Homo sapiens: one gene and its partner. The protein of the gene in region 1 purifies or fractionates together with the protein of each later gene. This does not show direct contact. Each region holds a gene or a part of one and is shown in the gene's direction. Other genes may lie near its edges.

What was found. Proteins that work in one complex are often made in the same cells at the same time.
Region 2: the proteins of ELSPBP1 (region 1) and FKBP14 purify together in Homo sapiens (co-immunoprecipitation; 2 studies listed by BioGRID and IntAct, with this or other methods). This does not show direct contact.

Annotation. Positions count from the first base shown.
Region 1 is NC_000019.10:48,018,540-48,022,194, forward strand, and holds part of ELSPBP1 (epididymal sperm-binding protein 1 precursor), read left to right. Parts: intron 1-1,179; coding exon 1,180-1,338; intron 1,339-3,630; coding exon 3,631-3,655.
Region 2 is NC_000007.14:30,009,971-30,013,433, reverse strand, and holds the end of FKBP14 (peptidyl-prolyl cis-trans isomerase FKBP14 precursor), read left to right. Parts: 3' UTR 1-2,847; downstream 2,848-3,463. UniProt on the Homo sapiens protein: PPIase which accelerates the folding of proteins during protein synthesis. Has a preference for substrates containing 4-hydroxylproline modifications, including type III collagen. May also target type VI and type X collagens.

The DNA of each region.
Region 1 (3,655 bases):
ATGTGCCAGGCAGTATTTTAAGTGCTTCACATGAAATAACTCATCTATTCCATACAATAATCTCTATCAGGTAAATGTGATTATTAGCCCAGTTTTACACATGGACAAACTGAGGTTAATAGAAGCAAAGCTGTGATTTTGATCCCAGGAAGTCTAACCTTCAGAATTTGTGCTCTTAATCACCAGTCATTACTGCCTGAAAACCCCAACCCCTTAGTCAAATTCTAGCTCCCCATGAAAGACCACCAAAGGAAATTAAAAAAAAAAGCCTGCTAATTAGGCAAGACTGAGTTTATTGCTCACTTCCTTGACAGCATCTTAATAACGTCTTGGGCTGGGCGTGGTGGCTCATGCCTGTAATCCCAGCACTGTGGGAGGCCGAGGCAGGTGAATCACCTGAGGTCAGGAGTTCAAGACCTGCCTGGCCAACATGGTGAAACCCCTTCTCTAATAAAAATAGAAAAATTAGCGACGCATGGTGGTGCATGCCTGTAATCTCAGCTACTCGGGAGGCTGAGGCAGAAGAATCTCTTGAACCCGGGAAGTGGAGGTTGCAGTGAGCCGAGATCGTACCACTGCACTCCAGCCTGGTTGACAGAGAAAGACTCCATCTAAAAAAATAAAAAATAACGTCTCGAAGTGGGGAGGGAAAACTCAGCATATTGATGGGGTCTTGGAGTCTCGTCTAAGGTGGGTCTTTCAATGGGGGATGTGATTTGGATTGTGTAAGGATCATGATATAATAGTTAGGATTGGTGTTCACAGCAAGGTGAAATGACCAAAGATGGGGTTTTAAAGAGTCTAGGAGAGTAAATAGTGTTTTGACACAATCGATATTTATGTAACTAGCTTTTCTGGAGGCTTCTGGAATGAATAATAGGGCTATTCGCAACTCTTATCTTCCTGGGCAAGAATTTCCTAGCTTAGTAGAGTCAAGGTGATGGCGACCGCAGAACCGTGAAGTCGTGTTAATAGAGACAGTAAGCTGTGCACGAGTTGATAGTTTTGGTTCTCACTTATCCGTAACATTGGGATAATAACGTCATCCGGAAGTTGCTTGGAGAATCCAATGTGACGTTGCCTTTAATGGGATAAAGCGTGGCACAGTTTGTGTGTCATAAATGGAAGCTCTTTTCATCTCCTCTTCTTGACCCGTAACCTTTCCATAATCCTTTTCAGAGTATGGGGGAAATTCTCTCAGGAAGCCCTGCATCTTCCCCTCCATCTACAGAAATAATGTGGTCTCTGATTGCATGGAGGATGAAAGCAACAAGCTCTGGTGCCCAACCACAGAGAACATGGATAAGGATGGAAAGTGGAGTTTCTGTGCCGACACCAGTAATCTGGGGATGGGGGTTGGGTGGGTGTGGGTGGAGTCTTTCTTTCATTTGCTCAACAAACACCTCCTGAAACCCCACTGTGAGCCAGGCACTGAGTTGGGCACTGAGGATCTGGTGATGAATCCGGCAGACAGAGTTCTGGCTCACGAATAATGTCAATGATGTGATATGCCACAGGCTTTAAAATCCAAGAGAAAGGTGCCAAAATGAAATGCTCAAAATGTTAAACACCTAACCATGATGCAAATACAGAGTAAACACACGCCAGGGTTTTTAAAAACCCCAGTGTGAGCCACGAATGGTGGCTCACGCCTATAATCCCAGAACTTTGGGAGGCTGAGATGGGAGGATCACTTGAGCCTGGGAGGTTGAGGCTGCAGTGAGCTGTGATCACACCTCTGTACTCCAGCCTGGGTGACAGAGTGAGACCTTGCGTCTAAAATAAATAAATAAGCAAACAGTGAAATCACCCAACAAAAGGCTCAAACATTTGGAAAACATAATACTATACTGCTAAAGTGCACCTGTTCACAGTACAAGAGCTGAAGTGAGCCAAAAGAGCATCCCCTTGTTCCCCCTTGGGTGAGAACATGTGTGTTGGGAGACTCAGACTCAAATTTCCTCTCCTGTGTGTGTCCACAAATGACCACAGAAGCGTCATGAGTGTCGATTTCATCAGTGACAAAGTTTAGCGAGTTGACGCATTTGCACCTGTGGAATCCATGAAAGATGAGGACACTGGAATTAGTCCTCTGAGACAAATCCTCCATCCACCAGGTGCTCCTGGTGACCAGCATTCTCCTTCTCCCTCCTTCCTCCAGGGCCCTCTGTGCTTCCACTCTGCCCTTCTTCCCTATTCCAGTGCCTGCCCTATCTTCCAGCCTTTCTCATGTCCTACACTCTTGATAGCTTCTGAGGGAAGAAAATACCCAAGACCCAGTGGAAAGGAAAGGGAAGTCCTTGGGCAAAGAGGAACTAGAAGGAGTTATATTTCTGCGCCACTCCGGGCAAGGGGTCAGTCCGAATAGCTGTGGGTGGGGGGGTGTGTTGTTCCAACAACTTGGGACTTTCCTAAATAAAATAAATTATTTCTCAGCTGGTCATGGGAGATGTGACAGCAAAAATTGAGACCCATTTACCCTCTGTTGCCTCAAGCTGCTGTGGATAGAGGCTTCCAGTTTGTACTATTTATGGGGTCATCTTTCATGAGGACATCATTTACGTCCTCATCTTTCATGGATTCCACAGGTGCAAATGTGCCTACTCGCTAAACTTTGTCACTCAGAAAATTGATACTTGTGGTGCTTCTGTGGTCATTTGTGGACACACACAGAGTTAGGAAGTTTGAGTTTGAGTCTCCCAACACTCATGTTCTCAGCCAAGGGGGAACAAGGGGGTGCTCTTTCGGCTCATTTCAGCTCTTGTACTGTGAACAAAATTCTTCTTTGGCTTAGGTTTAGGTCGGCATTCTGAGCAGTGCCCAGGCAGTGTCTTCATGTGTAGGGTTTACCCAGATTTTATTTTTTAGTTTTTTTTTTTTTTTACTTTTTATATTTTGTTTTATTTTATTTTATTTTTGAGACGGAATCTCACTCTGTCGCCCAGGCTGGAGTGCAGTGGCGTGATCTCGGCTCACTGCAACCTCCGCCTCCTGGGTTCAAGCGATTCTTCTGCCTCAGCCTCCCAAGTAGCTGGGATTACAGGCGCTTGGCACCACACCTAGCTAATTTTTGTATATATGTATTTTTTTAGTAGAGATGGGGTTTCACCACGTTGGCCAGGCTGGTCTCAAACTCCTGACCTCAAGTCATCTGCCTGCCTCAGCCTCCCAAAGTGTTGGGATTACAGGCATGAGCCACAAAGCGCAGCCACATTTTATATTTTAGAGACCGGATCTCCATCTGTCACCTAGGCTACAGTGCAGTGGTGCAATCATGGCTCAATGCCGCCTCGACCTCCCAGGCTCCAGCAATCCTCCTGCCTCAACCTCCCGAGTAGCTGGGACTACAGGCATACACCACACCCAACTAATTAAAAAAATTTTTTTTGTAGGGACGGGGTTTCACTATGTTGCCCAGGCTGGTATTGAACTCCTGGCTTCACATGATCCTCCTGGCTCAGCCTCACAACTGAGCTGGGATTAAATGCGCGCGATTAAATGCTGGGATTAAAGGCGCGAACCACCACACTCAGCCCCAATTTGAAATCTAGGGTGGGCCTGAAGCCCACGCCTCTACGACAGTGTGAAGCCTGAGGAGTAACCTTTGTTTTATCCCCTTCTGCTTCCTAGGAATTTCCGCGTTGGTCCCTGGCTT
Region 2 (3,463 bases), on another chromosome or scaffold:
TACTAAAAATACAAAAATTAGCCAGGCGTGGTGGTGCACACCTGTAGTCCCAGCTACTCGGGAGGCTGAGACAGGAGATTTGCTTGAACCCGGGAGGCGGAGGTTGCAGTGAGCCAAGATTGTGCCACTGCACTCCAGCCTGGGTGACAGAGCAAGACTCCATCTCAAAAAAAAAAAAAGAAGCAGACCTACAGCAGCTACTATTGAATAAATACCTATCCTGGATTTTAAAAAAGAAAAAAATATATATAATTTTATTTTAAATTGGCTTTTATCTTTAATTCTTTTTTTTAAAGTTATCAAATCTTCATTTTCTAAGAGTAGCCCTTTATAGTGTACAAAATGATATTAAGTGCATTATTATCTTCGCTTTTCATGGCTCTGAGTCATAAAACAAGCTGGTGGATCTCACTGTACCTAATTTATAGACGAGGAAATTGTCATTCAAAAAGATTGACTGTTATGCCCAGGGTCAGCACTAACCTGCAGAACCAGTATTCAGTCCCCAAGTTCAGTGTCTTCTACTGCCCTCTACTAATGAAAAGTGAAAATTTCCCTGGGGTCTAATTCTCTCTTCAGTTTGCTGTGCCGTTGTTTATCTTTGAGTCTTCATTCTCTGAAGATGGCTTTCTGCCTGTTTCTGGTACATTAGAATTCTCACTATGATATAGAAATGGCTTCAGTTTCATAGCATAATCTTGCAGTTAGCTCTGAATTGCCTCAAAAACCCTGAACAACGCGAGGTTCCAGATGTGTTTTACTTCTTTCATTCATATTTACCCCCATTTGTTGTTTAAAAAGAATTATGAACAATTATTACATCATATGTAGACCACTTTCACTGATTATATGTTGACATTTTCCTCAGTAAAACATAAAGTTCTTAACAAGACTATACTGTAACACCTTTCTCCAACAAAATCAGCTGTATGTTGAAAACTATTAAGTCATTGCTAATGTTTTAAGCCATAATACAGACAGCCTTATACTCTATGATGGGAGAAGGGAAAGTAGTTTGTCCGATGGTGCTACTCTGTATAAACATTACTGATGCTATCTATAGTAGGGCAAGAAAAGTAAAAAGAGTTTTGATTATTCAGGCAGCATTTTTAAAAACCTGTGAATTTGTATCAGTTCTCATCTAAACATTTGGACACAAGTATAAAATGAAAACATATGCACAAGTTATGGTTTTTAAGTTATCTGCTCTTTTTTTTGGTTTCACTGTACCTTTGTACTCTTCTATTAGTGGGAATAATCAGACATGAACTGTGACTTCACATGTACAGTCATACCTCACTTAATGATGGAGATGCACTCTGAGAAATGTCTAATTAGGTTATTTCATCGTTGTGGGAACATCATAGAGTGTACTTACACAAACCTAGATAGTGTAGCCTGCTACACATGTAGGACATGTATATAGCCTATTGCTCCTAGGCTACAGCATGTTGCTGTTCTGAATCATGTAGGCAATTGTAACACAATGGCAAGTGTCTGTTTATTCAAACATCTAAACACAGAAAAGATACTACAACAATAACAATATGGTATAAAAGATTTTGTAAAAAATCTGGTCAGGTGCAGTGGTTCACGCCTGTAATCCTAGCACTTTGGGAGGCTGCCTCAGCAGGTGGATTGCTTGAGCCCAGAAGCTCAAGACCAGCCTGGGCAACATGGCGAAACCCCGTCTCTGCTAAAAGTACAAAAGCTGAGGTTGGAGGATCACCTGAGCCTGGCAAGGTCAAGGCTGCAGTGAGCCATGATCATACCACTGCACTCCAGCCTGGGTGACAGAGTGACTCCCCATCTAAAAAAAAAAATATATATATATATATATACTATATATATATATATACCATATATATGGTATATATATATATAGTATATATATATATGGTGTGTGTATATATATATATATGGTATACCTGTATAGGGCACTTACTAACGGAGCTTACAGAACTGGAAGTTGCTCTGGATGAGTCAGTGGTGAGTGAATGTAAAGGCCTAGGACATTACTGTACACTACTGTAGACTTTATAAACACCGTACACTTAGGTGACACTAAAATTTATAAAAAATGTTTTTCTTCTGGTTGGGCATGGTGCCTTATGCCTATAATCCCAGCATTATGGGAGGCCAAGGTGGGTGGATCACTCGAGGTCATGAGTTTGGGACCAGCCGGGCCAACATGGCTAAACCCCATCTCTACTAAAAATACGATAATTAGCCAGGTGTGGTGGCACATGCGTGTAGTCCCAGCTAATTGAGAGGCTGAGGCAGGAGAATTGCTTGAATCCAGGAGGTGGAGGTTGCAGTGAGCCAAGATCGAACCACTGCACTCTAGTCTGGGTGACAGAGGAGCAAGACTCTGTCTCAAAAAAAAAAATTCTATAATTTTTATAGAAATAATAAAAAACTAACCTTAGCTTACTGTAAATTTTCTAGTTTAGAAACTTATTTAAAAACAATTTTTGGACTCTTCTAGTAATAACGTAGCTTAAAACACACATTGCATAGCTGTACAAAAATATTTTCCTTATATCCTTATTATATAAGCTTTTATCTATTTAAATTTTGAATTTTTAAACTTTTTGGTCAAAAACCAAGACAAACACACTAGCCTAGGCCTATGCAGGGTCAGGATCAAGACATCCCTAGCAGGTGACAGGAATTTTTCAACTCCATTATAATCTGTGGGGCCACCATCATATATATATTGTACATTGACCGAAACATGGTTACATGACTATATAATTTGCGTCAATACTGCTCAGTGTGCCATATTTAAATTTACATGACTATATTGTGATATTCTTTTCAAAATAAAGTTTATTTGGGAGATAACTGATTTTGTGAAAAATTCTTCAACACCAATTTCCTCAGCAGTTGTACTGATTTTCTTACCTGTTATTCTAAATTTTATACCAAAAGTGAGGAAGATGGACAGGTAGTGGAAGGAGAGGGGTACAGTGACACTTTGTGCCTCTGATTATCTGCTCTGTATAGGTATATTTGTAAGAAAAGCTGTGGTTTGATTTAAATTCTTTTGAAATATGCATTAAGTCTTGACCTTTAGCATGATAGTTAATAGTTAATTCTTAGCACTGAAGAAAGTGTTTTTGGTTTTTCGAGGGGGAGGAGGGAGGGTGATGGTTATTATCACTGTTGTTTTGGTTTAGGGTTTTATCGTGTGTAGCAGGTGGACACACTGATTTATGCCTACTGCGTAAATCAGTGCTATAAAATACCCTCTGATTAAACGAAATGCGGGGTTGCCATGAAAATAACGAGAAACAATGATTTCTGATTCAGATGAAGAATCTAGCCATTTGGATCTTTCCTTATGGAAATGAATTTGTAGTTTTTATTTTATTAATGATGTGTGGGATATTGCTTATATTTCTTTTCTATTTTTTTTCTTTTGTTGTTGTTGAGACACAGTTTCGCTCTTGTTGCCAGG